7 linked regions of the Homo sapiens genome follow. The protein of the gene in region 1 purifies or fractionates together with the protein of each later gene. This does not show direct contact. Each region holds a gene or a part of one and is shown on either strand. Other genes may lie near its edges. The genes, in order: EDEM2, TVP23C, HIGD1C, SLC16A10, PEX3, HACD1 and SLC25A16.

Region 1 (4,722 bases):
AGGGTCGTATGTTTCATGCCCCTGACTCACTTGACGGCTTCAGATCATCAGCTCGTCCGGCCTTCATTTTTAGCGTCTATCTGTATTTGCTGTGTTTCTTAGGACACCGGTTCTGAGAGATACTGAGTGGCAGTTGCATGAAAAAATGAGTCTTGGCCAATTAAGTTAGGGGAATATTAGATATAATATCCCCCCCTTTTTTGGAGAGTCAGAATGCACATGAGCAGAATAAAAATCCTCTAGTAAAGAAATCTATTCAACTTTGTTTAATTTAACATTTCCCAAACTTATTTAACACCAGAGCTTCCCTTTATCTTCCAGTACTATTAACCCATGGAAATTGAACACACTTTGGACCAGATGATCTCTAAGGTCAGTTTCAGCTTCTAAATGGGATAATCAATAAGATTAACAGTAATTGAGCCAAAGCCATCCAGGACATAACACTGGATTTAGTCAGAACTGGATTCAAGCCCTGGCCTTGCTACATCGAAACTGTGTGACCCTGAGCAAGTCACTCAACCTCTCTGGTCCTCAGTTACTTCAGCAGTAACGTTAATATATTAATACCAACTTTGCTGAGTCACTCTGACTTAGGAAGACTGCATTTAGGTCTAGGCACATTTTATGCAGTCTGGTGCTAATCCAGCTTGAAAAGTAAAGCTTGTGTGAGGACTCCCCGAAAATCCCTTAAGAAGGTGCCCCCCTAAGGCTGGGTGCGGTGGCTCACGCCTGTAATTCCAGCACTTTGGGAGACTGAGGCGGGCGGATCACCTGAGATTGGGAGTTCGAGACCAGCCTGACCAACATGGAGAAACCCCATCTCTACTAAAAAATACAAAATTAGCCGGGCGTGGTGGTGCATGCCTGTAATCCCAGCTACTTGGGAGGCTGAGGCAGGAGAATTGCCTGAACCTGGGAGGTGGAGGTTGGGATGAGCCGAGATCGCGCCATTGCATTCCAGCCTGGGCAACAAGAGCGAAACTCCATCTCAAAAAAAAAAAAAAGGTGCCCCGCTGGAGACCTGTAGTAAATCCCTTAGTCCATCTCAGGCAGGTTTTGCTCCAGCAGTGGGACCGTAGTAGACTCTGTTGGTGCCATGCCCATATCCTCTCAACTCTTAACATTTCCATGCACACTGGCCAGTCTTCCAACTGCCATCACCTGCGCCTCTTTGCCTGTGGGTCTCCTCTGGTGCCTGGAGCCACTCTGCTTGCCTTTGGCTGAGGGTACCAGGATTTAATGCTACCCATGAGTAGCTCTCAAGCCGGTAACTGATACTGATGGGAGTTGGTGGATAAACATTCCAGTTCCCTGCCCCTTGGGTGGGATCACTCCGAAGCTGGAGCTCTACACTGAATTCCTAAGCTCCCCAGCAAGATTGAACTCCAGTTCCCATGGTGGAAACCTGCCTGATGGCATACCCCTTAAATGCCGCCTCCCTTGCCCTGCCTCACTTCCCCCTCCTCTACTGGTGTTTACAAGGACTTACCTTCCAAATCAACTACTTTCAGGCAGAATGAGGTTGTGCTCCTGGGGGGACACAAACCAACGCGGAACAGTTAGCTATTTCTTTGAGTACCAGATGAAGTTACCAGCTTCCATGAGGGTCTAAGCCATATGAAAAATACATATATTTGGCTGGGCGCAGTGGCTCACGCCTGTAATCCCAGCACTTTGGGAGGCCAAGGCAGGCGTATCACCTGAGGTCGGGAGTTCGAGACCAGCCTGACCAACAGGGAGAAACCATGTCTCTACTAAAAATACAAAAAATAAAATAAATACAATAAAATAGAAAAATACGTATCTTTGTTTATTTTTTTGAGACAGAGTCTCCCCCTGTCGCCCAGGCTGGAGTGCAGTGGCACGATCTCGGCTCACTGCAACCTCCCCCTCTTGGGTTCAAGTGATTCTCATGCCTCTGCCTCCTGAGTAGCTGGGATTATAGGCACACACCACCATGCCTGGCTAATTTTTGTGTTTTTATTAGAGACAGGGTTTTACCATGTTGGCCAAGTTGGTCTCGGACTTCTGACCTCCAGTGATTTTGCCCCCCTCAGCCTCCCAACGTGCTGGGATTATAGGCATGAGCCACCGCGCCTGGCCGGCATTGCCAATTTTTCACAGTCTCTACAGAGACTGAACAATTAAAAAAAAAAAAGTCAAAGGATACAAAAAAGGGTACTCAGTGACATTGGTGAAGTCCCCTTTTGCCCCTGTCTCCAGCTATTCGGTTTCTCTCCTTAGAACCACTCTGTCAGCTTCTTGGTGGATGTTCTTATTGAGTTAATTTATGGAAATACGTAAAGCACGTCTGTGTCTTCAGATAGTGGAATCACATGCTGGGTGCTGAGAAATCAGACAGATTGCGGCAACAGCAAATTCTCATCTCCCATCTCACACTCACTCTAGGCAGGACATAAACACTCCAAATCATTTTTCTTTTTCATTTTTTGCTCAATGTGTATAATTAAGTCCTCATAAATGTGCATGAGATGCATCTCTACTATGCAGATGTACAGGAAGGCTGGCCATGATCCAGCATTGCCCTTCCCTCTCAGGGTCTGCATGTTTCCCAAGAAGCACTGGGGCACCTGCCCTGCATCTCCCTGGGCAGTCAGGGTTGGGGGTGAGTAGATCCTTCTTTGGCCATCGGCCTTCCCGTTGGGACCGTGTGTCTTTCTCTCTCTCAGGTCGGCAACCACATTGATGTGCTCACTGGCAAGTGGGTGGCCCAGGACGCAGGCATCGGGGCTGGCGTGGACTCCTACTTTGAGTACTTGGTGAAAGGAGCCATCCTGCTTCAGGATAAGAAGCTCATGGCCATGTTCCTAGGTAAAAATGGCAGAGTAAGGGAGCTTTTCCCCTCATTTTTCTTGCTGATGTGTGATTTGTTTAAAAACTTTTTTTTGAGACAGAGTCTTGCTCCATCTCCCAGGCTGGAGTGCAGTGGCACAATCTAGGCTCACTGCAACCTCTGCCTCCCAGGTTCAAGTGATTCTCATGCCTCAGCCTCCTGAGTAGCTGGGCATGTGATGGTGTGGACTACAGGCGCACACCATCACATCCAGCTAATTTTTGTATTTTTAGTAGAAACGGGGTTTCACCATGTTGGCCAGGCTGGTCTCAAACTCCGGACCTCAGGTGATCTGCCCGCCTTGGCCTCCCAAAGTGTTGGGATCACAGGTGTGAGCCACCACGCCTGGCCTGAGTGCCTGCAGAATCAGTTCTGAATTCAGAGTCACTATGGACTTACACTGCCCACTTCATGCCCACTACAGCACTTGATGCCTTCTTGCAAAAGCCAACTGAAGCGTGCTGCATTCTGTGTATGTAGCCCTGGATTTCTTATCTCCTGGCCATTGCACATGGCATCTTCTTTGCCTAGAATGTCTTTTTTCCTGTCTTCCTATGTCCAAATTCTTTTCACCCTTCAAAGCCTAACTTAAATGTCGCCTTGCCCAGGAAGTAGCTTGATCCTTCTACAGAATTTGGGACCTTCAGCATCTTTCTTGCAGTTAGCTCTCATCAACAGTTACAGCTCTACAAATTGAATGCAGAATCCATGCCTTACTCATCTTATGTTCCCCACAGTGCTTTACATGTGGTAGGTAATAGATTAATACCTGTTGAATAAATACATCTTACCCGCCAGGCCCTTAGACACTAGCAATCTTGAGGAATTGTTGAGCACCTAATTACTATTATTATTATAGCTACAGTAGTCCCCCGTTATCCACAGTTTTGATTTCCATGGTTTCAGTTATCCATGGTCAACTGCAGTCTGAAAATAGGTGAGTACAGTCAGATACGATATTTTGAGGCTGGGTGCAGTGGCTCACGCCTGTAGTCCCAGTTTTTTGGAAGTGAGGATTGTTTGAGGCCAGGAGTTTGAGACCAGCCTGGGCAATATAGTAAGACCCCCTCTCTAAAAAAACAAAGATATTTTGAGGCACTAAATTTACATAATTTCTTTTTTTCCTGTCTCTTACCAAAAAGACAAATTCACATAACTTCTATAACATATATTGTTATACTTGTTCTGCTTTATTATTAGTTATTGTTGTTAATCTCTTCCCATGCCTAATTTATAAATTAAACTTTTTCGGCTAGGCACAGTGGCTCATGCCTTTAATCCCAGTGCTTTGGGAAGCTGAGGCGAGAGAATTGCTTGACCCCAGAAGTTCAAGATCAGCCTGGGCAACATGGTGAGACCTCGTCTCTACAAAAAATAAAAAAAAATTTGCTGGGCATGATGGTGCGTGCCTGTAGTCCCCACTACTTGGGAGGCCAAGGTGAAGGATTGCTTGACCCTGGGAGGTCAAGGGTGCAGTGAACCGTGATCATACCACTGCATTTCAGCCTGGGTGACAGAGTAAGACCCTGTCTCAAAAATAAAAATTTTTAAAAATTTAATGAATTAAGAATTCTCATAGATGTGTATGTATAGGAAAACAGTAGTCACGCATTGCTTAATGACAGGGATATAGTCTGAGAATTGCATCGTTAGGTGATTTCATCATTGTGCAAACATCATAGGGTGTACTTAAGCAAACCTAGATGGTATAGCCAACTACACACCTAGGCTATATGGTGTAGCCTATTGCTCCTAGGCTACAAACCTGTACAGCATGTTACTCTACTGAATACTATAGACAATTGTAATAGAATGGTAAGTATGTATATAAACATAGAAAAAGTACAGTACAAATACAGTATAAA
Region 2 (4,722 bases), on another chromosome or scaffold:
AGTGAGCCGAGATCGCGCCACTGCACTCTAGCCTGGGCAACAGAGCAAGACTCCATCTCAAAAAAAAAAAACAATAATGGCAACTATTAGTAAAATTTAAAACCAGTCGTGTATCTTCTGCAACATTGGAGAAGATGGAGCAAGTAAAACAGTTCATAGAGCAAAAGAAGGAAAACAAAGCAACTGTCAAGGAAGCTTAAATCAGAGAGTACATGTATAAAGTGATGTAAGTAATAGCAAATTCATTATAATAGGAAATGTAATTTGATTAAACTACCCATTTAAAGACAAGAATACTAAGATTGGTCAGAAATCAAAGTCCAAACAAAAGATCTAACCAAATTAATGACATTAGAAAAAACAAAAGAAGGCAAAGATAACATCAGGCAAAAATAAAAGAAGGCAAAGATCAACTCAAACAAAAAGAAACTTGGCATTGTATTATTATCAGATGAGATATGGATCAGAGTAAGAAAGCACTAAGAGGAACAAAAAAAGGTGATTTTATGAATCACAGTGAAGATCATTCACAGAGTAAAATTATATCAAACTATGTATAGTAAAAAAATTGGAAATATTAGAAAATAGAAAAGCATTATGATGAGTTTAACAAACTACTATCTTAAACAAACCAAAGTGCCAAAAAATAAATAAGTTCTGAAGGATCTGAATGAAATAATTGGCAACATCAATTTGATAGCAGTATTTGGGACTTTGTATGACAGAGAGAATACTTTCTTGTTAAATGCCTGTGGAACATTTACAAAAATTGACTAAATATCACTGTGAAGAAAATCAAAATAAAATTGCCCAAAGCACCTACATTTTCTACTCCAAAGAAACAGAACTAGAAATTAATAGAAAGTAGTTGTTGAAATTGGAATTCTTTTAAAAAAGCGAACTACTACATATCTTGGGTTTAAAAGGAAGCAAAAACTGTAAATATAAGTTATTTATACCTTAATGGTGATCATTTACAGTTAAACTTTCTGAATATGTCAAAAACTGAATTCAGAGGGAAAATAATAGACTAAAGCCTTTTATTTTAGACAAGAAAGAGGGAAAATAATGGACTACTTGAGTCCAGAAATTTCAAAAACAAGCAATAAGTGTGAGAAATCAGGAAAATAAACTAATAAAGATAAAAGCAGGAAATAAAGAGTTAGAAAATGGAAACAGAAGAGTTTGAAAGTATTCTGAGAGCATTCTTTGAAAATACCTATAGAAGAGACCTCTGGTTTAGGTCTCCCTTGCCAGCTCTTTTTTTTTTTTACTTAGCATCTCTCCCATAGGAATTTTGGTCTCATAAGACTCTTCCTTTTCTTCTCCTGTATTCCCTTCCTAAGGAGTGCTGTCTGTGCTTCTGGTTTGAATTGCTGATCTGTAAGCTGTGTTGCCTCCCAGATCTGTATCTCCATTCAGGTTTGTCCTCACAACTTAAGGCCTCTCCATGTGTCTTCTTGACGTTTTTATGTGGCTGTCTTGAAGGCATCTCAAATCTTTTTTTTTTTTTTGAGACAAAATCTTGCTTTGTCACGCAAGCTGGAATGCAGTGGTGTGATCTTGGCTCACTGCAACCTCTGCCTCCCGGGGTTCAAGTGATTCTCCTGCCTCACCCTCCTAGATAGCTGAGACTACAGGCATGCACCACCATCCCTAGCGAATTTTTGTATTTTTAGTAGAGGCAGGGTTTCACTATGTTAGCCAGGCTGGTCTTGAACCCAAGTGAGCCACCATGCCTGGCCAGGCATCTTATATCTTAACATGTGTAAAATACTACTTGTCATCTTCCACTCCCCAAAAGCTCTTCTTCTTTGAGTGTTCCCTTTCGTGGGGCCTGGAATCACTATTTTTTTACTTGAGCAAACCGTAAATGTATCAGTTGCCTCCTTCCTACTCCATATCCAATTAATGACCAAGTCCCATAAATCCATAGATTGTACTTTCTTCATTAGGGCATCAGTGCCTGCTGCTCTATCTGGAATGCTCTTCTTCCTCCCACATCACCTTCATACAGGGATTCCTAATCTTTTTATGCCATGGGCCCCTTTCATAAACTCATGAATAAGTTTTCACATATATAAAATACATAAGATTTCAAAGGAAGTCACTTATATTGAAATATAATTTAAAAATATTAAAAAAGTAAATTTCTGATTGAGTTATATGTGTAGTAGTTCCCCCATTATCTGAGGTTTCGCTTTCTGCGGTTTCAGTACTGCTATATGCTACGCTAAACAGTAAGATACTGTGTGAGGAGAGAGAACTACATTCACATAACTTTTATTAGATTATGTTGTTATAATTGTTCTATTTTTATTTCTTATTCTCTTACTGTGCATTATTTATAAATTAAGCATTATCATAGGTATGTACTTATAGGAAAAAATATAGCATATATAAGGTTTGGTATTAACCACAATTTGAGGCATCTGCTGGGGGTCTTGGAATGTATCCCCTGCAGATAAGGGAGGACTACTATACTTTATGAATTTATTAATGGTAAGATCTAGTGGCAGGTCTAATAACTACTTTCAAAGCAGTGGTGAGCATAAACAATATGTTAAGATAACTGCAGCAAGTATAGTACAAAATGAAAAATGTCTGTGGTTTCTATTGTGTCAGGGTGTTTTTAATTTTACCTATGTTCATAGTTTGTTGTCTACATTCATAATTTAATGATATGCTAACTACTTTCAAAGCAGTGGTGAGCATAAATAGTATTTTGAGGCCGTGCGTGGTGGCTTACACCTGTAATCCCAGCACTTTGGGAGGCCAAGGCGGGTGAATCACTGAGGTTGGGAGTTCGAGACCAACCTGACCGACATGGAGAAACCCCATCTCTACTAAAAATACAAAATTAGCTGGGCATGATGGCGCATGCCTGTAATCCCTGCTACTTGGGAGGCTGAGGCAGGAGAATCGTTTGAACCCGGGAGGCAGAGGTTGTGGTGAGCTGAGATCGCCCCGTTGCATGCCAGCCTGGGCAACAAGAGCGAAACTCTGTCTCAAAAACAAAAAACAAAACCAAACAAAAAACAAAACTACAATATTTTGAGGTAACTGCAGCAAATATAGTACAAAATAAAAAAATGCCTGTGATTTCTATTGTGTCAGGGTGTTTTTAATTTTACCTACATTCATAGTTTGTTGTCTACATTCATAATTTAAAGATATGCTAAATTTTAGCCAGAGGTTAATGAAAATGAAGGTAACATTTTTTTTTACCCATCGAGGTTCACAGAACCACTGAATCTATTAGTGGACACCATTAATTAAACATCCATGGTACTGTTGATTCTTATTTATCTTTTATATTTCATTCCAAATGTTGACTCCTCAGAGAGTCATTTTCTGATACCCAGACTAGATCAAATTTCCCTGTTATACTCTTCAAGCATCCCACACTTTTCCCTTGCAGGACTTAACTCAGTTGGTAATGGTACATTTGTGCATTGGTTGTCTGCCTCTCTTCACCTCTTTCCCTGAGGAAGGAGTTGGTATCTGTTAGTCACTGTTGTATTACCAGCACATAGTAGATGCTCAGTAAATATTTGTTGAGTAAATAAAGATTAGGAAAGCTATCAAACTAATTTGTTACCTTAGTAAGTAGGAAAAGAGCTTGGTACACTTGAGAGACTGACTGAAGGCCAGTGTCTATAATCATTTTCAGGGATATGTAGTTGTAAAATATATGTAGCTATAGTCAGGATGTAAAGTAGGTCACAGTAACCAAATAGCAAGGGGTTTAGGGAAAATTAGGGAACTGGAGAAAGGGCAAATTGTTCATGAGGGAAAAGAGAAGGTGTAATGTTTATGGGTGGACTTGTTGCTTGCTCTGTCACCTCTACCCCTATTAGTCCTGCCATTACCATTTTACTTAATCGTTTAGCCAGGCCTGATACATAGTAGTCTTTGCTAACTGGATATTATGGAGGTAAAGCTGAAGGTTTTTGTTTGTGAAATGTTACACTAAGATAGGAGCTTGTGACAGATCTTTAAATAATGCTTTTAAAATGTGCCTGTTTATATTAATCTTCACCAGAATGTCACAGGTAGACTAATGGTTGGCCTACGTTGGTGGAATCACATTGATGAAGATGGAAAGAGCCATTGGGTGTTTGAATCTAGAAAGGTAAAGTGCCTTTTTTGTTTTAAATAATGTTATCAGCTAAATTATTTGTAGACTATATTTAAATACTGGAAGATGAAGTATTCAGAATTAAAAACACTATACCAAATCACTTGGCATGTCAGCACTAAAGGAGATGGCCTTCTAGAATTTAATGCATTTTTCTGTCTAGTTCAGACCAGAAACAAGCAATATACGAACAGAATCCTTTGAGGGAAGACACTGGGTCTGAGTTCATACAGTGTGCTAAGCTGCCTGTCAGGGATTGCTGATAAAAGATCTCTGTGTTGCCTTTGTTAGTGTCTCCATAAATCCCTCTATGCTCAGCAGATAACTGCTTTTAACATCTTGTTCTGTCTTTGCTCCTGTGGTCGTCTTTCATTTCTGGGCAGGAAAAAGGAGGAGGAGTGCAGCTGGATAGAATATCTGATTGGAGCACTCTATTCCTAAGCTTCTGCCTTCAGGAGCCCTGGGGATCCTGGTCTGTTTTGGGTTAGCCTGCTACACTATAGTGAATATTCACTTTCCTTGTGGAAATAAGTTTTGGAAGCAGAGGACCAAATTCTTGGCGACAGTACACCAAGGGTATT
Region 3 (4,722 bases), on another chromosome or scaffold:
TAATGAGAACAGGTCACAATACTCTTAAGTCCCCTTCATGACGTGCAGAGTGGAGTCATCCTGCGTAGGATGGAAATTACAGAATGATGGGCATGGGGCTTGCAAGGAAAGTTACGTGGTAATAATCTTATTACTGTGAGCTGTAATGTGCTCCAAATACAGGAAGCCTTACTACAAAGTTACAGTCCTCATTTTCATCATTCAGCAAACATTGATTGAATGCCTGCTATGTACCAGACACTGTTTAGAAATATGACTCAGTCCCTACCCTTAAACAGTTTAGTCTCCTTAGGAAGACAGACCAAGAAAGAAAGAAGACAATATAAAGTTATAGATGCCGTGACAGAAATAGCACAGGCTGGCTGGGCGCAGTGGCTTGCACCTGTGATCCCACCACTTTGGGATGCCGAGGCGGGCAGATCAACTGAGGTAAGGAGTTCGATACCAGCCTGGCCAACATGGCAAAACCCCATCTCTACTAAAAAAATTACACACACACACACACACACACACAAAATAGCTGGGTGTGGTGGCACATGCCTGTAATCCCAGCTACTTGGGGGAGGCTGAGGCAGGAGAATCGCTTGAATCTGGGAGGTGGAGGTTGCAGTGAGCCGAGATCATGCCTTTGCACTCCAGCCTGGGCAATAAGAGTGAAACTCCATCTAAAAAAAAGCCAGGCACGGTGGCTCATGCCTGTAATCCCAGCACTTTGGGAGGCCAAGGCAGGAGGATCACTTAGGGTCAGGAGTTCAAGACCAGCCTGGCCAACATGGTGAAACCCTATCTCTACTAAAAATACAAAAATTAGCCAGGTGTGGCATGCGCCTGTAGTCACAGCTACTTGGGAGGCTGAGGCAAGAGAATCGCTTGAACCTGGGAGGCAGAGGTTGCAGTGAGTCGAAATCATGCCACTGCACTTTAGCCTGGGCATCAGAGCAAGACTCCATCTCAAAAAAAGAAAAAAAAATTTTTTTGCTATGGAAGCACAAACACAAGGGAGTGGTATTTAACTAGGGCTGGGAGGCCAGAGGAGGCTTCTTTAAGGATGTAAACCATGTACTGAACCAAGAATAAGGAGGAATTAACTAAGCAGAGAAGGACCTCAGGATTCTAGGCAGAGGAAAAAACAAAGGCACAGAAGCATGGCATGTAAGTGGAACTCTACATAGCTTGGTAGGCGAATCAGTGTTTGAGGAGAAAAGCAACACTACTAGTAGTAATGTTTAATGAGGGATTTATTACAGGTATTTGAACTTATATAATTATGAGGCTCTTGCTTATGAAATCTGGAGCTGGGGCCTGAAGTGAGCCGGGAAAGGAATTAGAAAAGAAAGGAAAGTAGGCCAGGCATGGTGGTTTGCACCTGTAATCCCAGCACTTTGGGAGGCCGAGGCAGGGGTATCACTTGAGGTCAGGAGTTTGAGACAAGCCTGGTCAACATGGTGAAACCCCATCTCTACTTAAAATACAAAAATTGGCTGGGAGTAGTGGTGCATGCCTGTAATCCCAGCTACTCAGGAGGCTGAAGTAGGAGAATTGCTCGAACCTGGGAAGCGGAGGCTGCAGTGAACCAAAACCACGCCACTGCACTCCAGCCTGGGTGAAAGGGCAAGACTCCATCTCAAAAAAAAAAAAAAAAAAAAAAAAGAAAAGAAAAGAAAGGAAAGTAGAAGCAAGGAAAATCCAGAACCTGCAAAGATGAGCTAGAACAATACACAGGACAGACTGGAACCCTTGTGGGTTTTCAGCCATCTCCAAGCCTCCACATTCACTGACGGAGGTGAAATATAGAAAATGCCAATGCCTTTCATCCTGGGGCTAAACATGGAGCTGGCAAAGGGGTCAGAGAAGGTGAAGGAGAAAATTCAGCAGGAGCCATGGTGGCTGTGCTCATGATTGCTGAACCCTGCCAATAAAGTGAGCCAGCAGAGAAGCAAAACTGTACCGCAACAGTGTCTTCCAGACATAAGAAGAATTCGACTGCTGCATCATTTCCACCTTCTAAATCTCATACAGGATGTCTCTTTTGCACTAACCCTGGTAATAAAAGGAAAGGAATTCTGGAAAATGCAGTTACAGGCTACTTCAACTGACATAATATAAGCCTACCACTGTCCAGCCCTTGTCAACTTGACATCCATATATACCTCTATTAATTACTCTTAACTTCCAAATAAAGACAGTGTCAAAATCAGCCACCCCTTGTATATCCAAAAGCATGCTAGTTATCTCCCAAAAGAGGATACAGAATCCCTTCATACGTCTTTGGATGATGATGATTCCTCTTTGAGCTGAATCACATTCCCCTTTGATATCCTATGACTTAAATCCTGAGATATAAGGTTGAATCCTATTAACACTTCTTATGTTAGATGATAGGTAAATGGACGTGGGGAATAGAAAAAAATTGGGCTAATCTATACATAAATGCATTCATATCAAAATAAGGAAGAAACACTCCTAAATATCACAGTCTGTTTCTGCAGCTGGTCAGATGGTTATTGCTAGTATTATATCTATATTCATCCACTACACATTTCATATCCCCTTTGCTTTCAGCAAGTACCTTGGCTACTCATGGTTATTTGACTGGTGGGGTGACCCAAACCTTCATTCCTTCATGCCTAACCTGGATTATTAGGCATCCTGCCTGTGTTGGATTTAGTTTTCCATTGTCTTTAATCACAGGACATGGGAGTACCAAGAAGTGCCCTAAAAGATATAATGCATTCCAATTTCCCCTTGATGTTCAGAACAAATTAATATAATGAACTAAAGGGATGTCCTGTGTAATGAAGAGATGATCAAGGTCCCTGCAGACTAGATTATGACATACGGCTGGAGAGTTCACACAGCCCTGATATTAGGCAGTGAAAGCATACTGTGGGCCCTGCCAGGTGAAAGCAAATGCTTCTGATTATCTTTAGTAAAAGATATACAGAAAAAAGCATTCAACCAGATTAACAGCTGCATACCAAAAAGCAAATGTTATGTTGATTTGCTCCAGCAGCAAAACCACATCTGGATAGCAGAGTGACCACCTGATTAAGTTTATAGGAATAGTATCATTCTCCAAGATCCATCTGTCTTCTGCCAAATAGGCAAACTAAATGGGGATGTTTTAGGAATCACCACTCTGGTATCTTTTTTCAAAGACTTTTTGTAGAGGCAGAGTCTCACTATGTTGCCCAAGCTCAAACTCCTGACCTCAAGCAATCCTCCTGCCTTGGCCTCCCAAAGTGTTGGGATTACAGGCACGACCCATTGCATCTAGCCACTCTGGCATCTTTGAAGTCCTTGATGATGGCACTAATCTCTACAATCCCTCTAGGAGTAGGGTAATGCTTTTGTTTTATGTTTGTGGGTTTTTTTGTTTTTGTTTTTTGAGACAGGGTCTTGCTCTGTCACCCAAGTTGGAGTGTAGTGGTATGATCATGGCTCGCTACAGCCCCAAACTCCTGGGTTCAAGCAATCCACCCACCTCAGCCTCTTGAGTAGCTGGGACTACACGTGTGCACCACCATGCCTGGCTAATTTTTAATTTTTTTTTTTTTTTTGTAGAGGTGAAGTCTTGCTACATTGCCCAGGCTGATCTTCACCTGGTGGGCTCAAGCAATCCTCCCACCTCAGCCTCCCAAAGTGCTGGGATTACAGTTGTCAGCCACCGTGCCCAGCCACTGGTTTACTATTTTTCCTTCCACTTGGTATTTCCTACTATAATAGCCCTTACTTTGCAGGTCAGGGGACCAGTGTAAGAATTCTGACAGTTGATGAGTATGTCTATTCCAATTACACATTCCAGAACTGAGGAATAACAGAGAGTGGGTTCAGTGACCCACCAGGCTTGACTATGAAACAGACCCACAGCAAAACTCCATTAACCACCTGACCTCCACAAACCCCTACTTTGACTGGTAGGCCACACTCATTCTACCAAAGTATGGATTAGTGTCAATTTAGAACCAGGATTCAAAAATCCCCCATAAATGTGATTCTTTTCCCTTCCTTGGTGAACAGGTACCCTGGTAAATGAGCACAGGTCCCCTTTGGGAAAGGCTAGAAGGAAGACTTACATCTATTTTTGTCTGTCGAACATGGTCTTTCCTTAAGGGGATCTGGCTCCCTCTTCATTCAAGGGATTTCTGGGCCTGTGAAAATGACTCAATTCTAGGAATTGGTCAAGGAGCCCTGGCTCTTTATTGTGGTGATTCAAGTTAGACTTTTGTTCACCAAACCTAGAGCTTTTCTGCTTCTGCCCATAAGTTTCAGTTCTAGGGATACCATAATCAGTTAGCCAATGCCAAAGATCTCTGTGGCTTACTTAGACTATTCTGATGACCACTTAGGCTTTGCTGCCCATCACAACAATCATGCTTTCCTTGTCTTTGTCAATCAAATGCTACCACTTGACCCCCACAGCCTCAGGATCCCATCATCCCCATTGAATTTAGGGAGCCCAGCAGTTTGCACTGTCATTTCTGGCATACAGAGAACAGTCACCACAGGACTCTTGTCAGGGCTACCCTGACAAATGTCTTTCTCACAACCTTAGTTTAGGGAGTGGGTAAGCAGGATAAATTTACTCTAACATACCAATCTCCCTAATCCTTTGGATACCTACCTCTGTGGCAGTTTCTGAACCTCAGCACTACTGACATTTTGGGCTGGATTCTTCTTTGTTGTGGAGGATTGTCCCATGCATTGCAAGATGCCTAACAG
Region 4 (4,722 bases), on another chromosome or scaffold:
TTACAGTCACAAAGTAGGGTTTTCAGTAGCATTTAGGGATGAATGAATCTTGCAGCACCTCTCCATGTATCTTGCTAGCCCCTCTGAAACTTCAGGTCAGTTAGTGCTTCCTCAGAAATTGTTCCCCCCACACCAAGTTTTCACATTTACAGTTATACTGATATCCACATTGTACTGTTGTATGTGACACCTAGATTATAGGAAATTTTGGCTATAGTTCAGAAATTAACTGCTATGTTTTGCCTTTACGCTAAAGAGATTTTGTTTTGTTTAGTAGGAAAAGCGGCCTGCATAACTAGCCATTTCTGTATCTTAGAAAAATTTTTAGTAACAGTCCTTTGTTGAGCTAGTTACAGTGAACAAATAATCTGGTTCATGGTCCTATACATCTTTCACTATAAGAAAAATACCTGATTGTTATTTACACTGGAAGAGAGGTAGAAAAGCTAAGAGAACTCACTTATGGCAATAAACCAATCTAAACTACCTGCTAAAATAAGTGAGAAGATTATAAAAATGGTTCTAGGATTTTGGAATAATAGTGAGTATGGTATGGGCGTTTCATACTTCATTTCCAGAATGTTTCTGGATTAAGTGCGAGACTGAATAGCATATATAGTGAATTCTAATTAAATACAACAATGTGAGATTCCTGTGGTGTTTTTTCATGGAATTAAAAATTAATAATTTCAATAAAATTAACTGCTGAAAGAACCCAATTAGCCAAAATGAAAAGCATAACACATTTTTTCAGGAGCGATTTTGAGGTGTCTTTTAGAATAAATTGTACTCTGCTTTTGATGTGATTTGCTACATCTTTTTGTTGCAGTTCCTTGAGGCTCAGCCCCTGGCCATATACTTGCTTCACTTTTCCTGCTTTCTTCCATCCACTGTCTTGGGGCTGTTATTTCCAAATCTCATCACTGTGTTCAAGACTTATTTACTATTTCTGGACAGTTCCATTTGGGTACACAGGTACATCATACTAAACTAACATGAACTCATTTTTCAGCTACACCATACAACCTTCCCTTACTACCAAAAATGACAGCCCATTTGTCGGCATTCTTCTGAATCCATATTCCTCCTTCTTAATTCTCTGTGCATGATACCTCTGGTTGTTTAAGTCAGAAACCTGGAATGTATCTTAGCTTCTTATTTCTCTTCCTTCCTTACCTGTTTTGTTAAATCAGAGTTCTTTTGTGTTTACCTTCTTAATGCCTCATAAATCAGTCCCACTTTTCTTTCACTACTGTGTCTTAATTCATGCCTTCATTTACTTTTTATTTTATTTTTTGGGATAGGGCCTCACTGTGTTCCCCAGGCTGGAGTGCAGTGGCATGATCATAGCTCACTGCAGCCTCAAACTTCTAAGCTCAAGCAATCCTCCTATCTCAGCTTTTTGAGTAGCTGCAACACCAGGCACATGCCACCATGGCCGGCTAATTAAAAAAAATTTTTATGTGGAGATGGCATCTTGCTATTTTGCTCAGCCTTGTCTTGAACTCCTGGCCTCAAGCGACCCTCCTGCCTCAACTTCCCAAAGTGTTGGGACTACAGGCGGGACCTACTGTGCCTGGCCACCTTCATTACTATTGGCAACAATTAGTCATAACCCCTTAACAGGATTGCTTGTCCTCAGTTGTACATCTGAGTGATTTTTCTAAAAGATTGGACCATATGATTTTTCTGTTTAAATGCCCAGTGACACTCATTACTTTTAGGAAAATGTCAAACTCCCTACTCCGAAGGCCTGCAAGCTCTGGCCCTTGCCTGGCCCTCTAGCCTTGCCCCTGCTTCTCTCCCTTACTGGTCTTTGTGTTCTAGCCAACCTGTAGGTGTTACACTGGCCCAAATTTGTCTTGCTGCTTTTTGCCTCTGTACCTTTGTGTGTGCCACTCCTGTCTTCAGTGCGATGGTTGGTCCTTGTGAGATTCTGATGAAATGGTTGGCCATTTTATTCTTATGTCACAATCCTGGGACACAAACAGTGATTTTATGCAATTGTTATGTATTTGATGCACTTGGAATATTGGGGGTAGCTACATTTTGGAGTTTTGAGAACGAATTCAAATAAGTTACAAATTATGTTTAAAGTGGTAGACAGAGAACCTGATTTCAACCTATTCTAATAAAGCATTCCGTGAAAGCCATTTTAAAGATGATCCATATTTGTTAAAGTGGTAATTTTTATATTCTCTGATATGGTTTGGCTGTGTTCCCACCCAAATCTCATCTTGAATTGTAGCTCCCATAATCCACACTTGTCATGGGAGGGAGGTAATTACCTGGTGGGAGGTAATTGAATCATGGGGGCAGGTTTTCCTGTGCTGTTCTTGTGATAGTTAATAAGTCTCATGAGATCTGATGGTTTATAAAGGGCAGTTCCCCTGCACACTTTCTGTTGCCTGTTGCCATGTAAGACATGCCTTTGCTCCTCTTTCACCTTCCACCATGATTGTGAGGCCTCCCTAGCCATGTGGAACTGTGAGTCCATTAAACCTCTTTTTCTTTATAAATTACCCAGCCTCAGATATTTCTTCATAACACTATGAAAATGGAGTAATACATTCCATTACCATAAAGAAAAGGCTTTCATGTACATTATTTTTTAGAGTAGCCTTGTGGTATGTCATTACCTCCATGGATAGATAAGAAAGTTGCAACTTGCACAGTATTAGGATTGATATCAGTATTTACTTTTATTAAGTTGAACTTAAGAGCAGCTTTTTGGCTGGAAAAAAGTTGTACTTATGTCAAAGTTGTCCTGAAAGTAGAATCCTACTCCTGTCCCCAGCCTGAAACTATTTACTACATATTTACTTGCATGTTCTTTAGAATATTCTCTCAATAGTGTCTCCTACTCAAGTCATCAGAAATGCTGTGATGTCATTTTTGGAAAAGAATTCCAGAGTTATCACCGCCTAGCTAGAAATCTGGTCTTATATTCAAATTAAACAAGCAAACCTTAACAAAAACAAGCTAAACCCTAAACATAACATGAACAGTCAGCTCACCACAGTTCTGAGCACCTGCCTTGGCCTGGTGCCACCCACGCAGGGACTGTGGATGTTTTTATTGGCAGAGATTCAGAACAGGAAACTCCAGCACACCTGGGAACTGCGCAGACCCACCACATAAGACAGATAGCCTATCAGTGGCTGGAGGAATGGAGGAAAGCAGTGCTTTCAAATGTACATGCCAAATGTGTATGATCATACCTCTTTGTTAAAGTGCCTTCTTTAACAGCAAAAGTAATTCCTCACCTTGCATATAGGAACTAAAAAAAAGTCGATGAAGAAATGGCTTGCCTTATTTTCAAGTAAGAAGTCTTTTTTCATTTCACTAATTTTTAATTATGGGCATAAGTATGAAATACAGATTAGAAATACTGAATGTGGACCAAAGCAATGTTTCCTTTGTGGACCAAAGCAGTGAATCTTTTTTCTTTCTTTCTTTCTTTTCTTTTTTTTGTTAAGAGACAGGGTCTTGCTCTCTTGCTCAGACTGGAGTGCAGTCAGTGATGTGATGGCTCACCATAACCTCAACCTCTTGGGCTCAAGGGATCCTCCTGCCCCAACCTCCTGAACAGCTGGGATTACAGGCACATACCACCACACCTGGCTAATTTTTAAAAATTTTTTTGTGGGGGAGGGTCTCTCTATATTGCCCAAGCTGGTTTCAAATGCCTGAGCTCAAGTGATCCTCCAACCTCAGGCTCCCAGAGTGTTGGGATTACAGGTTTGAGCCACTGTGCCTGGCCCCAAAACAGTGTTTGTAACTCCCTTTGTCCCCTCTTGATAAACATAAAAGTCTCATGGTACTTCAGAATTTTGTTGCACACATCCAAGTGTAGTTTGCCTTTCCTTGTGAGTGGCAGAAGACAATGTCATACTCTGTATTTATCCATCAGCCAAAATTTTGTCAAGCTTTACTTTTATTTTTTAAATTTTTATTTGTATTTTTTTTTGGAGACAGAGTCTTGCTCTGTCGCCCAGGCTGGAGTGCAGTGGCGTGATCTCGGCTCACTGCAACCTCCGATGCCTGGGTTCAAGCGATTTTCGTGTCCCAGCCTCCAGAGCAGCTGGGACTACAGGCACGCACCACCATGCCTGGCTAATTTTTTTGTATTTTTAGTAGAGGTAGGGTTTCGCCATGTTGGTCAGGCTGGTCTCGAACTCCTAATCTCAGGTGACCCACCCGCCTCAGTCTCCCAAAGTGCTGGGATTACAGGCATGAGCCACCATGCCCGGCCAAGCTTTACTTTTAGTTATGTTGTGGATATAATTAGAATTATTTTCTTGTTCTTTAAATACAGAATTATAATATTGAATGTGTGCTTTAAAAAAATTAGTAAATGTACCCCTCTAGAACTTCTGATCTATGCCTCTTAGTGAGTGAGGGGAGCTGTGCCGCTTTCCTCCTCCAGTGCCTCCACTTAAGAATCACTCACTAAGGAGTTTTAAATTCAATTAAAGGTATCCTTTAGATAGTTAAGTCTAAATGAAAGGTCAATGATTAAATTAATGGATAAAAGTCCATTGCACCTACGGAAAGGTGCATTGGTCTACAGTTCAGCTAGTACCTATTTTTTGCTAAAGATTAAATTGCAGCTGGGCGGGGTGGCTCATACCTGTAATCCCAGCACTTTGAAAACCTGATGGAGGCCGGGTGCCGTGGCTCATGCCTGTAAATCTTAGCACTTTGGGAGGCCGAGGTGGG
Region 5 (4,722 bases), on another chromosome or scaffold:
ATTGGCCTAAATGAATTCAATTCAATAATAAGAATAAAAACTAACATTTTTGAGTGCTTATGCAGCAAGCACTGTTCTATACTGCTTTATCTATCTTAACTCACTTAAACCTTACAGTAACCCTAGGAGGTAGGTACTATGATGATCTTTTCTTCAGTTTCCATTTCTTCAACTTTCATCCCCTTAATCATTTTTCTTCTTGGAACCTTACCATATTACCTTTAAAAGAATAAAGTTCAGCCCAAATTACCGTGCAACCCAGCAATTCCACTCCTAGGTATCTACCAAAAAGAATGAAAACATCTCTAGACAAAAACTTGTTCAGATTTTTCACAACAGCATTATTCACAATAGCCAAAAAGTGGAAACAGTCCAGATTTCTATTAACTAACAAAAGGATAAAATCTGATGTATTCATATAATGGAGCCCTATGTAGCAAAAAAGGGGAGCAAACCACTGATACATGCTACAGCATAGAAGAACCTTCAAAACATGCTAAGTGAAAGAAGCCAGACACAAAAGACCACATATGTATGACTGTTTCTATGAAATGTCCAGAAAACTATATAGACCAAAAGTAGATTAATGGTTACCTGGGGCTAAGACTGAGATGAGAATTGGCTGGAAATGGGCCTAGTGGGTGATGAAAATGTTCTAAAATTGGATTGTAGCGATAGTTGCACAACTATGCAAATTTACTCAAAATCATTGACTTGTGCATTTAAAATGGGTGAATTTTATGCCCTCTAAGTCCTACTTCAATAAAGCCGTTAAAATGCTTTTAAAATAGAGATGACTAAGGAGAAAAGGTAGGTAGATAGAAAGATACACACATACACATGCACACTGTAGTCAAGAAATTGGAACATAACTAGGTATTTTCTAGCTTTCTTGGCATCTTTATATATTATTCTTTATATTAAAGAGTTTTGTGAGGAACTAAGAGAGTATAATTAAGATCAAAAAACCCCGGTCTCATGTTTGAGCTCCCCAATTTACTAATCACAGGCCTTTCGTCAAGCTTCTTCATCCCTCAAGTATCATTTCCTCATCTGTACACAATAATATTTTCTGTCTCACTGAAATATCATGCTAGAGGATGTAAAGCCAACTAATCTATGACTATAAGGAAATTTAAGAGTTTCCTCAAAATTAGTAGTACTAGTACTGATATTTTTTAAAAAATTCATTGTACAAAGTGCTGACTAGTATAAAAAATCTGAAGTGGATGAATATTCTCATTATGTTGTGCTAAATAAGCTCATTTTTAAATACTTTTTAAAGATTGATTTCTTGATATATTTTACAGTATTAGATTATGACTAGAAATGTTGGTGGCTTTCAAAGGTAACCACGTTATTACTGAATTTGTTTTCTCTTCCATTCAGAGTCTAAAAAGTAACTTATACTTCTTACTTTATATAGCCCAGATTTTAGTACAGTTTTGAATACCTGTTTAAACCGAGGTTTTAGTAGACTTCTAGACAATATGGCTGAGTTCTTTCGACCTACTGAACAGGACCTGCAACATGGTAACTCTATGAATAGGTAAGATGACATATAAAAATGTTATACTAATGAATGCTCTAAAAAAATGGTGCTTTGCTTGTCTTTTTGTTCCAGATAACAACAACAAACCTATTAAATTTGAGTGCCTCATTTTTTAACAAATTAAACTCTGTTAAACCAACAACTTCTTCACTAGCAGAAGCTCCTTCTTGGTTTCAGTATTAAAACTTGGAGTCTTCCAGAAACTTTGCCACTATATTGAAGTACTTTAGTTGTAATTACCTTTCTATAAGTTGAATTCCAATTATTGTTTTTTTTTAACTCTTTAGAATACAAAACTCACAATATGTTTTAATTTTAATGCATTCTCTAATGTTATTCCATTACTGCAGGCCATTTTGGTCTGCATATTTCAATATTTTGTTCCTTATAATACCCGGGCATTGTTGGTATAGATTCTCATTTGATGAATTAGCTCCTTATAGTTCTACAAATGCTTAAATGTATTCATTCCAGTCCTTATTACAGAATTAGGAACATGTATTAGTGCAATTGTTAGTGATTTTAATCATAACTATTACTAAATCATGGACTTATGTATGCCATAAGGTATCTTACGGTTTTTTATATCTTTGTTATCCCAACACAAATATCTTTGGTCTCATATTAGAATTTATACTCTTTAAGGATTTCTATTTTGCAGTTTTTTATGTCAAACTCGGAAAATAATGGGTACTAAATTAATGTTGACTGACTGTAAACTCATTCATTAAAATTTGAGACACATCCTTTGAAGTAGCTTTAAAATTTTTTTTTTAATTGGGGACACAGTAATTGATAGGCAATATGTATGTGCAATATCCAATTTAATTCTTAAATACATAGGGCCAGAAGTTACTTACCAGATTCTCTGAGACCCTTCTTTATTGTAGAGAAAAGATTAATTTGACATTGACATTAAGCATTTGGAATGCTTACAGCCATAAAGTATATTCTCTGAAGTAATTTAAATATCAACATAAAATCTTTAAAAAAATTTTAAGTTATACAAAAATAAATTTCAGCTCAAGACCAATCCTATATACTGTATAAATCAAGGTGCTCCAATTAGTAAAATTTCACCATAATCTGTATATAGCAAGATATTCGTTATTTTGCAAGTAGTGATACATAATTGTAATGGTTATTTTAACATAAATACTTGATTTTGTACACTGAAGAATTGTAAAAATTATACTACAGCCACAACAGCCATGATAGTGTTTCTTTTCTGAACTATAGTAATCATTATCTGTACTTTCATGTACAACCTACATGTGCTACCTTGAATTGGAGTTTTATTCCTCAGTTACATTTTAAGCCTCCTCTCAAAAGTCAAAAACTATCTTGTGCCCTTTCATGTCTCTTTACTCATACAAGGCACTCAGTAGATATTTTCTATATAAGTTTTTCTGTTTCATCTCAATAACCAACTTCATGCTCCATGATTGAACCCTAGAAACATTTCCATCAAGCCTATTGTCATCATTGTTTAATGTGTTGTGAAAGTCTAGCCATCATAGTAAGTCAAGAAAAAACAAATGGCTAAGGCCTGTAATCCCAGCACCTTGGGAGGCTGAGGTGGGTGGATTGCACGAGCCCAGGAGTTCAAGACCAGCCTGGGAAACATAGGGAGAGACCCTATCTCTACAACAAATACAAAAATTAGCTGGGCATGCGGCACATGCCTGTAGTCCCAGCTAATTGGAAGGCTGAGGTGAGAAAATCACCTGAGCCCGGGAAGTCAAGGCTGCAATGAGCTGTGATTGTGCTACTGCACTTCATCCTGGGCGAGGGAGTGAGACCCCCCTGCCCCCCCAAAAAAAGAAGTAAGGTTTTTAACTATTGGCAAAGACACAAAGTATATTATTTACGTGTATTATAATTAATAAGCCAGACCTCTGAAGAGAATCAACTGAAAAATGAGGTAAACTAATAAAGGCTTTAATTTATATATATATATATATATATAAAATATATATGCAACATATATGTATTAATGTATTATATGTATTACATATGCATGTAATATAATGTATAATGGATATTTAAAAGTCAAAAGTGCAAAATGAAATCCAGAAGTATATTACAATAATAATAGCAGCTAATACTTTTTCCATGTGCTAGTTTGATGATAGGTATTTTTCAGAATGTCTCTCATTGAATTCTTAAAATAATCCTAGGAAATACGTACTAGTATTCTTCATTTTCCAGGTGAGGAGACTAAGACACAGAAAAATTAAATAACTTCAGGTCAAGTGGTAAAGCCAGTTGTTCAATAATGTCTATCTGAGATAGAAATTTTTCTCCAAATTTTTAATTATTCTCCAACACTATGATTAATTAAGGTTTAAGAATGTAAGGAGGGTTAAAACTAGAAAAGCTATTTTGGTAATCCATAACATTAATAAGCTAATAAGATAAAAAACATTATCTTCAGTGTTGCTGAAAAGACATTCAATAAAACAACATTTATTATGGATAAAACCTCTTACTAGAAATAAAAAATACATTTTTATATAATAAAATAATATTTGAGTCAGGTATGATAGCTCACTTCTGTAATCCTGATGCTTTTGGAGGCCAAGGCAGGAAGATTGCTTGAGGCAGGAATTCAAGACCAGCCTGGGGAATATAGCAAGACTCCTGTCTCTACAAAAATTTTTAAAACCACCAAGAGGATTGCTTGAGCCCCAGAGTTCAAGGCCACAGTGAGCTATGATCATGCCACTGTACTCCAGTCTGAGTGACAGAATAAGACCCTGTCTCTTAAAAAAATATATAAAAAAAGAGTATTTGAAATCAAAAGCAAATATACTTAATAGTAAAACTGGAATGATTTCCATTAAGTTCAAAAACAGTATAAAGATGGTCACTATTGACAGATTATTCAGCATCATTCTATTATTCTATCTAATGGAGTAAGGCTAGGAGAAGACCAATTTTGAGATTCAATTAAGGAAAGCTGTTGATTTTTTTCTATACTTATATCTTGAAAATAGGTAACTTTTACTGTTGGATAGCGAAAAAAGAAAGAAAATAGACAATTTACTGAGTGTTCTTACCATTTTAATAAACTGTTAGTTGACCGTTGGTTTTCTAAGTTAAACTCATGCTATCTTTAAAAATGATATCAATTTTGAAAAGGGAGAAGAAAAAGCTATTGTTATATG
Region 6 (4,722 bases), on another chromosome or scaffold:
AACGTTTCCGGAGCCGGGCGCGGTGGCTCACGCCTGTAATCCCAGCACTTTGGAAGGCCGAGGTGGGCGGATCACGAGGTCAGGAGATCGAGAACATCTTGGCTAACACGGCGAAACCCCGTCTCTACTAAAAATACAAAAAATTAGCCGGGCGCCATGGCGGGCGCCTATAGTCCCAGCTACTCCGGAGGCTGAGGCAGGAGAATGGCGTGAACCCGGGAGAGGGAGCTTGCAGTGAGCCGAGATCGCGCCACTGCACTCCAGCATGGGCGACAGAGTGAGACTCCGTCTCAAAAAATAAAATAAAATAAAATAAAATAAACGTTTCCTTGTTATTTCCTTTTTTTTTCTTTTGTTAAGCCAAGCCCTTGCTCTGTTTTCCAGGCTGGAGTGCAGTGGTGCTTACTACAGCCCCAACCCCGAAGCTCAAAGCAATCCTCCTGCCTCAGCCTCCTGAGTAGCTGGGACTACAGGCGCACACCACCATCCTCAGCTAATTTGAAAATTTTTTTGTAGAGTAGGCCGAGCACGGTGGCTCACGTCTGTAATCCCAGCACTTTGGGAGGCTGAGGCGGGTGGATCGCCTGAGACCAGCCTAGCCAACATGGCAAAACCCCGTCTCTATTAAAAATACAAAAATTAGCCGGGCATGGTGGCACAGGCCTGTAATCTCAGCTGCTTGGAAGGCTGAGGCACGATAATCGCTTGAACCCAGGAGGCTGAGAGATCGTGCCACTGCACTCCAGTCTGCACTCTGTCTCACACAAAAAAATAAAACAATAATAATAATAATTTCTGTAAAGACAGGTTTTTGCTATATTGCCCAGGATGTTCTCAAGTGATCCTCCCACAATGGCTTCCCAAAGTGCTGGGATTACAGGTGTGAGCCACCGTGCCCAGCCAGTGAACATTTTGAAATATCTGCCTTGTGTTAACTGGGTGTCTGTCCTTTCTCTTTTCAGTTGACTCTCTGTCTTGAAAGCCAACTGATATTTCAAAAATGAACATCAATGCATAGCTCCAGTTTAAAGACTTCAGTGACTCCCTGCCACCTCCACCCTGATCTAAGGGATTCAGGCTATCTGCCATTCAAGGCTTTTTGCAATCTGCTCCCGATTCCCCTTTCCAGTCAACTTGCATTTGATATCTCTGACTCACTCGTCCCTCAAAGCACCATGTATTTTCACAGCGCTCTGCTTCTGTGCTCAGGTTTTTCACTTTTGTATAATGTTCTCCTGTTATTCCCATGACTTCTAATCAAATCTACCTCTTTGAAGTTTTCCGGGTCTCCTGCCTTACCTGGTGCAGAATTAAATGCTTTCTCCATTCTGTCCCTCTGACCCTTCCCCGGCAAATCAGGGCTTGTTCTAAACTTGTCTCCTTCTGCCTCTACTGAGAAGTTTCCTTGTCATATTTACAAAAATAAGGGATATTGAAATGGAATAATCTCTGTAACTGACTCTTCAGATGCTTTCTAGAGGCGGTGAGATTTGAAGAAGGAATAAGATTTGCATACATAGAGAGTAGACATTTCAGGTGATATAAATTCTGGAAATAGGCATGATATGCAAGCCTGATGTATTCTCTTGATTGAACTGGAGGGTGCTGTTGGGGAATAGTGGTAAATAAGGTTGAAGAAGTTGTAGTGTTGAAATCGGGACAAGAACTTACACGTTTTATAGGGTGGACAGCAGAAGACTAGTTGAGGCTCTTTTTGTTCATTTAACTTATTTCTCTGTTAACAGAACTTTGGCGTGTTTATTAATTTTTTTGTAATAATTTTCAAAACAAGTGGGGAACAGTGGTATGCACCTGTAATCCCAGCTACTCAGGAGACTGAGGCAGGAGGATTGCTTGAGTCCAGTAGTTTAAGACCAGCCTGGGCAGCAAAGCGAGACCCCATCTCAAAAACAAAACACACACACACACACACACACACACACACACACACACACACACACACACCCCAAATTGCAAAGCAACGGAATAGTATTTAAGAAATATTATAAAATTTTACATAAATGTAAAATACAGCTTGTTATTTTATCAGCCTATCACACACTTTCATTTTCTTTTTATCTTTCATATGAATATTTGACCTCTTCCAAGTTTTTTTGTTTTTGTTTTTGTTTTTTTTTTTTTGAGACGGAGTCTTGCTCTATCACCCAGCTGGAGTGCAGTGGGGAGATCTCGGCTCACTGCAAGTTCCGCCTCCCGGATTCTCGCCATTCTCCTGCCTCAGTCTCCTGAGTAGCTGGGACTACTGGCGCCCGCCACCACGCCCGGCTAATTTTTTTTGGATTTTTAGTAGATACGGGATTTCACCGTGTTGGCCAGGTTGGTCTTGATCTCCTGACATCGTGATCCGCCCGCCTCGCCCTCCCAAAGTGCTGGGATTACAGGCATGAGCCACCGCGCCCGGCCCCCTCTTCCAAGTTTTTACTCAAAACTTCATTCTCAAGGAGGCCTTACCTGGTCATCTTAATTTGAATAGTGAAACACATACTCCTTATCTCCCTTGCCTGTTTATTTTTCTCCATCCCACTTTCTTTCATATGATTGTACAATATATTTTACTTATTCGCAATGCTTATTGTCTGTCATCTCCATTAGAGTGTAAACTCCAAGAAGTACTCAATAAATATTTGAATGAATGAATGAGTGAATGTATTACAGCATTGCTGTTATAATATCTGCTGTATTGTATATTTTTCCATTTTCACTTAATAGTCTGTCAGGTTTTCATCTGTTTTTCATAATTATACTTTTTGACAGTTACATTTGAGTGTATAGAATTAATTATACAATAATGGATTAAATCATGCGCCTAACGACATTTTGCTTTTATTTGTTTCTGTTCAATTCGTGGCTTAGTGTAATAAATTCCTGGAAGAAGAATTACACCTTTAAAGGATGTAAGGATTTTTTAGGGTTTTTTTTTTTTTTTTTTTTTTTTTGAGATGGAGTTTAGCTTTGTTGCCTAGGCTGGCGTCAAACTCCTGGGCTCAAGTGACTTCCTGCATTAGCCTCATGAGTAGCTGGGATTACAGGTGAGTGCTACCATGCCTGGCAGATGTAAGGATTTTTTTTTTTTTCAAGACAGAGTCTCGCTCTGTCACCCAGGCTGGAGTGCAGTGGTGCGATCTCAGCTCACTGCAAGCTCCGCCTCCCGGGTTCATGCCATTCTCCTGCCTCAGCCTCCCGAGTAGCTGGGACTACAGGCACCCCCCACCACGCCTGGCTAATTTTTTTGTATTTTTAGTAGAGACGGGGTTTCACCGTGTTAGCCAGGATGGTCTCGATCTCCTAACCTCGTGATCTGCCTGCCTCGGCCTCCCAAAGTGCTGGGATTATAGGCGTGAGCCACCACACCTGGCCAGATGTAAGGATTTTTATGGCACTTGCTCATAATAGGGAAGTGAGCATTTCTCTCCCTCCCTCTCTCTTTCTTTCTGACAAATACTTTTGTGCCCGTATATATAAATGCATTGTCCTTCAAATACTTTAGGCCCTGTCCTTGAAGCAGGGTAACCTGGGGCATTAATATATAAACAACAATTGCAATAAAATAATGAGATAAGTGCTAAGCAGATGTGTCAGAGGACAGACAGGTAGGGAGAATTAGAGAAAGTTTTCTGTGAGAGATCACAGCATTTAAACTGAGCGGTGAAGGACTTAAGTAGGCATAAGTGGGGAAACAGCATGAGTTAGAGGACAGAGATCTGAAATTGCAAGACATCTGTTGAGGCATCAAGAAGAGGGCTTGGGCCGGGCGCGGTGGCTCATGCCTGTAATCCCAGCACTTGAGGCTGAAGCAGGCGGATCACGAGGTCAGGAGATCGAGACCATCCTGGCTAACACAGTGAAACCCTGTCTCTACTAAAAATACAAAAAATTAGCTGGGTGTGGTGGCGTGCACCTGTAGTCCCAGCTACTCGGGAGACTGAGGCAGGAGAATCTCTTGAACCCGGGAGGCAGAGGTTGCAGTGATCCGAGACCATGCCACTGCACTCCAGCCTGGGCAACAGAGCGAGACTGTCTCAAAAAAAAAAAAAAAAAAAAAGAAGAGGACCTGAAGTGTAGAGTGGGAAATGAAGGCGGACAGGTAGCTTGGGGCATTGCACTGGGCCTCAGATGCTTTGCTAACATGTTTGGATTTTAGTCTGTACACAATACACAAAGGTGTTGTTTAAAGGTTGTGTCTCATTCCTTTGTAGCTGGGTAACCTCAGATAAGCTACTTAACCTCTCTGACTCTTAGTTTTCTCATCTGTAAAGTTGGAACAGCACAACTACTTAGCTAGATTATAAAGGAATAAAGAGATAATGGATATGAAGTTCTTAGCAGGATGCCTGATGCACAGTGGATGTTTACAAATGTTCATTTTTATTCCTAGTGGTTTATTTAAAATTGTACTTTTTTTTTTTTTTGAGACAGAGTCTGGCTCTGGAGTGCAGTAGCACCAGCTCAGCTCACTGCTCAGCCTCCCAGGCTCAAGTGATCCTCCCACCTCAGCCTCCCGAGTAGCTGGGACTACAGTCACGTGCCACCACACCTGGCTAATTTTTAAATTTTTTGTAGAAACAAGGTCTTGCCATGTTGCCCAGGCTGGTCTTGAACTCCTGGGCCCAAGCAATCCACCCACCTTGGCCTCCCAAAATCCTGGGATTACAGGTGTGAGCCACTGCGCCTGGCCTAAAATTGCACTTCTTGCAGAAAGAG
Region 7 (3,500 bases), on another chromosome or scaffold:
TAGCTGGGACTGCAGGCACGTGCCACCATGCCGGCTAATTTTTTGTAGTTTTAGTGGAGACGGGGTTTCACCATGTTAGCCAGGATGGTCTCGATCTCCTGACCTTGCGATCTGCCCGCCTCAACGTCCCAAAATGCTGGGATTACAGATGTGAGGCACCATGCCTGGCCCTTCGCCTGGCTAATTTTTGTATTTTTTTTTTTTTTTTTTTGAGACAGAGTTTTGCTCTTGTTGCCCAGGCTGGAGTGTAATGGTGCAATTGTGAATCACTGCAACCTCTGCCTCCTGGATTCAAGCAATTCTCCTGCCTCAGCCTCCCGTGTAGCTGGGATTACAGGCATGTGCCACCAGGCCTAGCTAATTTTTGTATTTTTAGTAGAGATAGTGTTTCTCCATGTTGGTCAGGCTGGTTTCGAACTTCTGACCTCAGGTGATCTGCCTGCCTCGGACTTCCAAAGTGCTGGGATTACAGGTGTGGGCCACTGCGCCTGGCCTAATTTTTGTATTTTTAGTAGAGACGGGGTTTCACCAAGTTGGCCAGGCTGGTCTTGAAATCCTGACCTCAAGTGATCCTCCCACCTAGGCCTCCCAAAATGCTGGGATTATAGGCATGAGCCATTGTGCCCGGGTCAATTGTTTATTTACAGATTGTCTATCTAATATTTTTTGAACATGGATGACTGGTGGTAACTAAAACTGCAGAAAGTGAAATTGCAGATAAGGGGGGACTATCGTAGTGTGAAAGCAAGTTAAGATACTATTAAATAGGCTGGGTGCGGTGGCTCATGCCTGTAATCCCAGTACTTTGGGAGGTAGAGGCGGGTGGATGACGAGATCAGGAGTTCAAGAACAGTCTGGCCAACATGGTGAAACCCTCTCTCTACTAAAGACTAAAAAAAGAAAAAATTAGCTGGGCGAGGTGGTGGGTTCCTGTAATCCCACCTACTCGGGAGGCTGGGGCAGGAGAATCGCTTGAACCTGGGAGGTGAAGGTTGTAGTGAGCCGAGATCGCACCATTGCACTCCAGCCCTGGAAAAAAAAAAAAAAAGATACTATTATATAAAAGTACTTATTGAATACATTCTAAACAATTTCTCTCTTTTTTTTTGAGACGGAGTTTCGTTCTTGTCGCCCAGGCTGGAGTGCAGTGACATGATCTCGGCTCACTGCCACCTATGCCTCCCGGGTTCAAGCGATTCTCCTGCCCCAGCTTTCCAAGTATCTGGGATTATAAGCATGTGCCACCACACCTGGCTAATTTTTGTATTTTTAGAAGAGATGGGGTTTCACCATGTTGGCTAGGCTGGTCTCGAACTCCTGACCTCAGATGATCTGCCCACCTCGGCCTCCCAAAGTGCTGGGAATACAGGCGAGAGCCACTGCACCTGGCCTAAATAATTCATTATACAGTTAATTCATACACAACTGAGAAGATAATATAAAATATTCTGAAACCAAATGTATCCAAATGCATATTATTTTTAGTTTACCCATAATTTTGGATAGCTATGATTATGATTTACTTTTTTTTTTTTTTTGAGATGGAGTCTCACTCTGTCACCCAGGCTGGAGTGCAGTGGCACAATCTCAGCTCACTGAGACCTCTGCCTCCCGGGTTCAGGCAATTCTCTGCCTCAGCCTCCCGAGTAGCTGGGATTACAGGTGTCCGCTACCACACCTGGCTAATTTTTGTATTTTTAGTAGAGACAAGGTTTCACCATCTTGGCCAGGCTGGTCTTGAACTCCTGACCTCGTGATCCACCCACCTCGGCCTCCCAAAGTGCTGGGATTACAGGCATGAGCCACTGCGCCCAGCCTTTTTTTGTTTTTTGAGACGGAGTTTCATTCTTGTTGCCCAGGCTAGAGTGCAATGGTGTGATCTCGGCTCACCACAACCTCTGCCTCCCAAGTTCAAGTGATTCTCCTGCCTCAGCCTCCCAAGTAGCTGGGATTACAGGCACACGTCATCACACCCAGCTAATTTTGTATTTTTAGTAGAGACAGGGTTTCTCCATGTTGGTCGGGCTGGTCTCAAACTCCCGACCTCAGGTGATCCGCCCACCTCGGCCTCCCAAAGCGCTGGGATTACAGGTATGAGTCACCATACCTGGCCAACTATTATTTTCATTAGTTCGGATAAGAGAGCTTTGATATGGAAACATAGTGGATATAATATCTGAGTAAAAAATACATTTTATTTATTTATTTATTTAATTTATTTATTTATTTATTTATTTTATTTGTTTTTTTGAGACCGAGACCTGCTCTGTTGCTCGGGCTGGAGTGCAGTGGTGCGATCTCGGCTCACTATTACCTCTGCCTCCTGGGTTCATGCAATTCTTCTGCCTCAGCCTCCCAAGCAGCTGGGATTACATGCACGCACCACCATGCCCAGCTAATTTTTGTGTTTTTAGTAGAGATGGGATTTTACCATGTTGGCCAGGCTGGTCTTGAATTCCTGACCTCGTGATCTGCCCGCCTCGGCCTCCCAAAGTGCTGCGATTACAGGCATGAGCCACGGCTCCCAGCCACAATTTATTTTTGGATATCTCAGAATATGGATTTTTAAAATTAAAATTTTATTTGTGTTTTCTTTTTTTTTCTTTTTTTAAGACATAGTCTCTGTAACCCAGGCTGGAGTGCAATGGTGTGATCTCAGCTCACTGCAACCTCCACCTTTTGGGTTCAAGAGATTCTTCTTCCTCGGCCTCCCCAGTAGTTGGGATTACAGGCAGCCGCCACCATGCCCGGCTAATTTTTTTATTTTTAGTAGAAATGGGGTTTCACCATATTGGCCAGGCTGGTTTCAAACTCCTGACCTCAAGTGATCTGCCTGCCTCGGCCTCCCAAATTGCTGGGATTACAGGCGTGAGCCACCGTGCCCGGACTTGTTGTTTTTTAAAGACCAGGTGTTGCTGTGTTATCTAGGCTGGAGCGAAGCCGCACAATTATAGCTCTCCGTGACCTCCAACTGTTGGCTCACGTCATCCTCCAGCCTTAGTCTCTGAGTACTGAGGCACACCACCATGCCTTGCTAATTTTTTTTTTTCTTTGAGATGGAGTCTCGCTTTGTCGCCCAGGCTAGAGTGCAATGGTGTGATCTCGGCTCACTGCAACCTCGGCCTCCTGGGTTCAAGGGATTCTCCTGCCTTAACCTCCCAAATAGCTGGGACTACAGGCGCCTGCCACCATGCCTTGCTAATTTTTTTGTATATTTGATAGAGACGGGGTTTCACCATGTTGGCCAGGCTGGTGTCGAGCTCCTGACCTCAGGAGATCTGCCCGCCCCGAGCTGCCAAAGTGCTGGGATTGCAGGCATGAAGCACTGCGCCCAGCCGATTTTAAAAAATTTTTTGTAGAGATGAGGTCTCACTGTGTTTCCCAGGCTGGTCTCAAACTCCTAGTCTCAAGTAATTTTTCTACCTCAGCCTCCGAAAGTGCTGGGATTACAGGTGCGAGCTACTGTGCCTGGCCTGTTATTCACCTTTTTATAAAAGGAG

The links.
Region 2: the proteins of EDEM2 (region 1) and TVP23C purify together in Homo sapiens (affinity purification with mass spectrometry, with the first as the bait; 2 studies listed by BioGRID). This does not show direct contact.
Region 3: the proteins of EDEM2 (region 1) and HIGD1C purify together in Homo sapiens (co-immunoprecipitation; one large-scale study listed by IntAct). This does not show direct contact.
Region 4: the proteins of EDEM2 (region 1) and SLC16A10 purify together in Homo sapiens (affinity purification with mass spectrometry; 2 studies listed by BioGRID and IntAct, with this or other methods). This does not show direct contact.
Region 5: the proteins of EDEM2 (region 1) and PEX3 purify together in Homo sapiens (co-immunoprecipitation; one large-scale study listed by IntAct). This does not show direct contact.
Region 6: the proteins of EDEM2 (region 1) and HACD1 purify together in Homo sapiens (affinity purification with mass spectrometry; 2 studies listed by BioGRID and IntAct, with this or other methods). This does not show direct contact.
Region 7: the proteins of EDEM2 (region 1) and SLC25A16 purify together in Homo sapiens (affinity purification with mass spectrometry; 2 studies listed by BioGRID and IntAct, with this or other methods). This does not show direct contact.

Annotation. Positions count from the first base shown.
Region 1 is NC_000020.11:35,129,755-35,134,476, reverse strand, and holds part of EDEM2 (ER degradation-enhancing alpha-mannosidase-like protein 2 isoform 1 precursor), read left to right. Parts: intron 1-2,693; coding exon 2,694-2,835; intron 2,836-4,722. Other genes in the region: MMP24-AS1-EDEM2 (ER degradation-enhancing alpha-mannosidase-like protein 2), read left to right, coding at 2,694-2,835. UniProt on the Homo sapiens protein: Involved in the endoplasmic reticulum-associated degradation (ERAD) pathway that targets misfolded glycoproteins for degradation in an N-glycan-dependent manner.
Region 2 is NC_000017.11:15,546,472-15,551,193, reverse strand, and holds part of TVP23C (Golgi apparatus membrane protein TVP23 homolog C), read left to right. Parts: intron 1-4,045; coding exon 4,046-4,135; intron 4,136-4,722. Other genes in the region: TVP23C-CDRT4 (uncharacterized protein LOC100533496), read left to right, coding at 4,046-4,135.
Region 3 is NC_000012.12:50,961,744-50,966,465, forward strand, and holds part of HIGD1C (HIG1 domain family member 1C), read left to right. Parts: intron 1-4,722.
Region 4 is NC_000006.12:111,093,359-111,098,080, forward strand, and holds part of SLC16A10 (monocarboxylate transporter 10), read left to right. Parts: intron 1-4,722. UniProt on the Homo sapiens protein: Sodium- and proton-independent thyroid hormones and aromatic acids transporter.
Region 5 is NC_000006.12:143,477,650-143,482,371, forward strand, and holds part of PEX3 (peroxisomal biogenesis factor 3), read left to right. Parts: intron 1-1,426; coding exon 1,427-1,549; intron 1,550-4,722. UniProt on the Homo sapiens protein: Involved in peroxisome biosynthesis and integrity. Assembles membrane vesicles before the matrix proteins are translocated. As a docking factor for PEX19, is necessary for the import of peroxisomal membrane proteins in the peroxisomes.
Region 6 is NC_000010.11:17,610,341-17,615,062, reverse strand, and holds part of HACD1 (very-long-chain (3R)-3-hydroxyacyl-CoA dehydratase 1), read left to right. Parts: intron 1-4,722.
Region 7 is NC_000010.11:68,517,524-68,521,023, reverse strand, and holds part of SLC25A16 (solute carrier family 25 member 16), read left to right. Parts: intron 1-2,805; exon of another isoform or gene 2,806-3,500. UniProt on the Homo sapiens protein: May be involved in the transport of coenzyme A in the mitochondrial matrix. Very little is known about the physiological function of this carrier.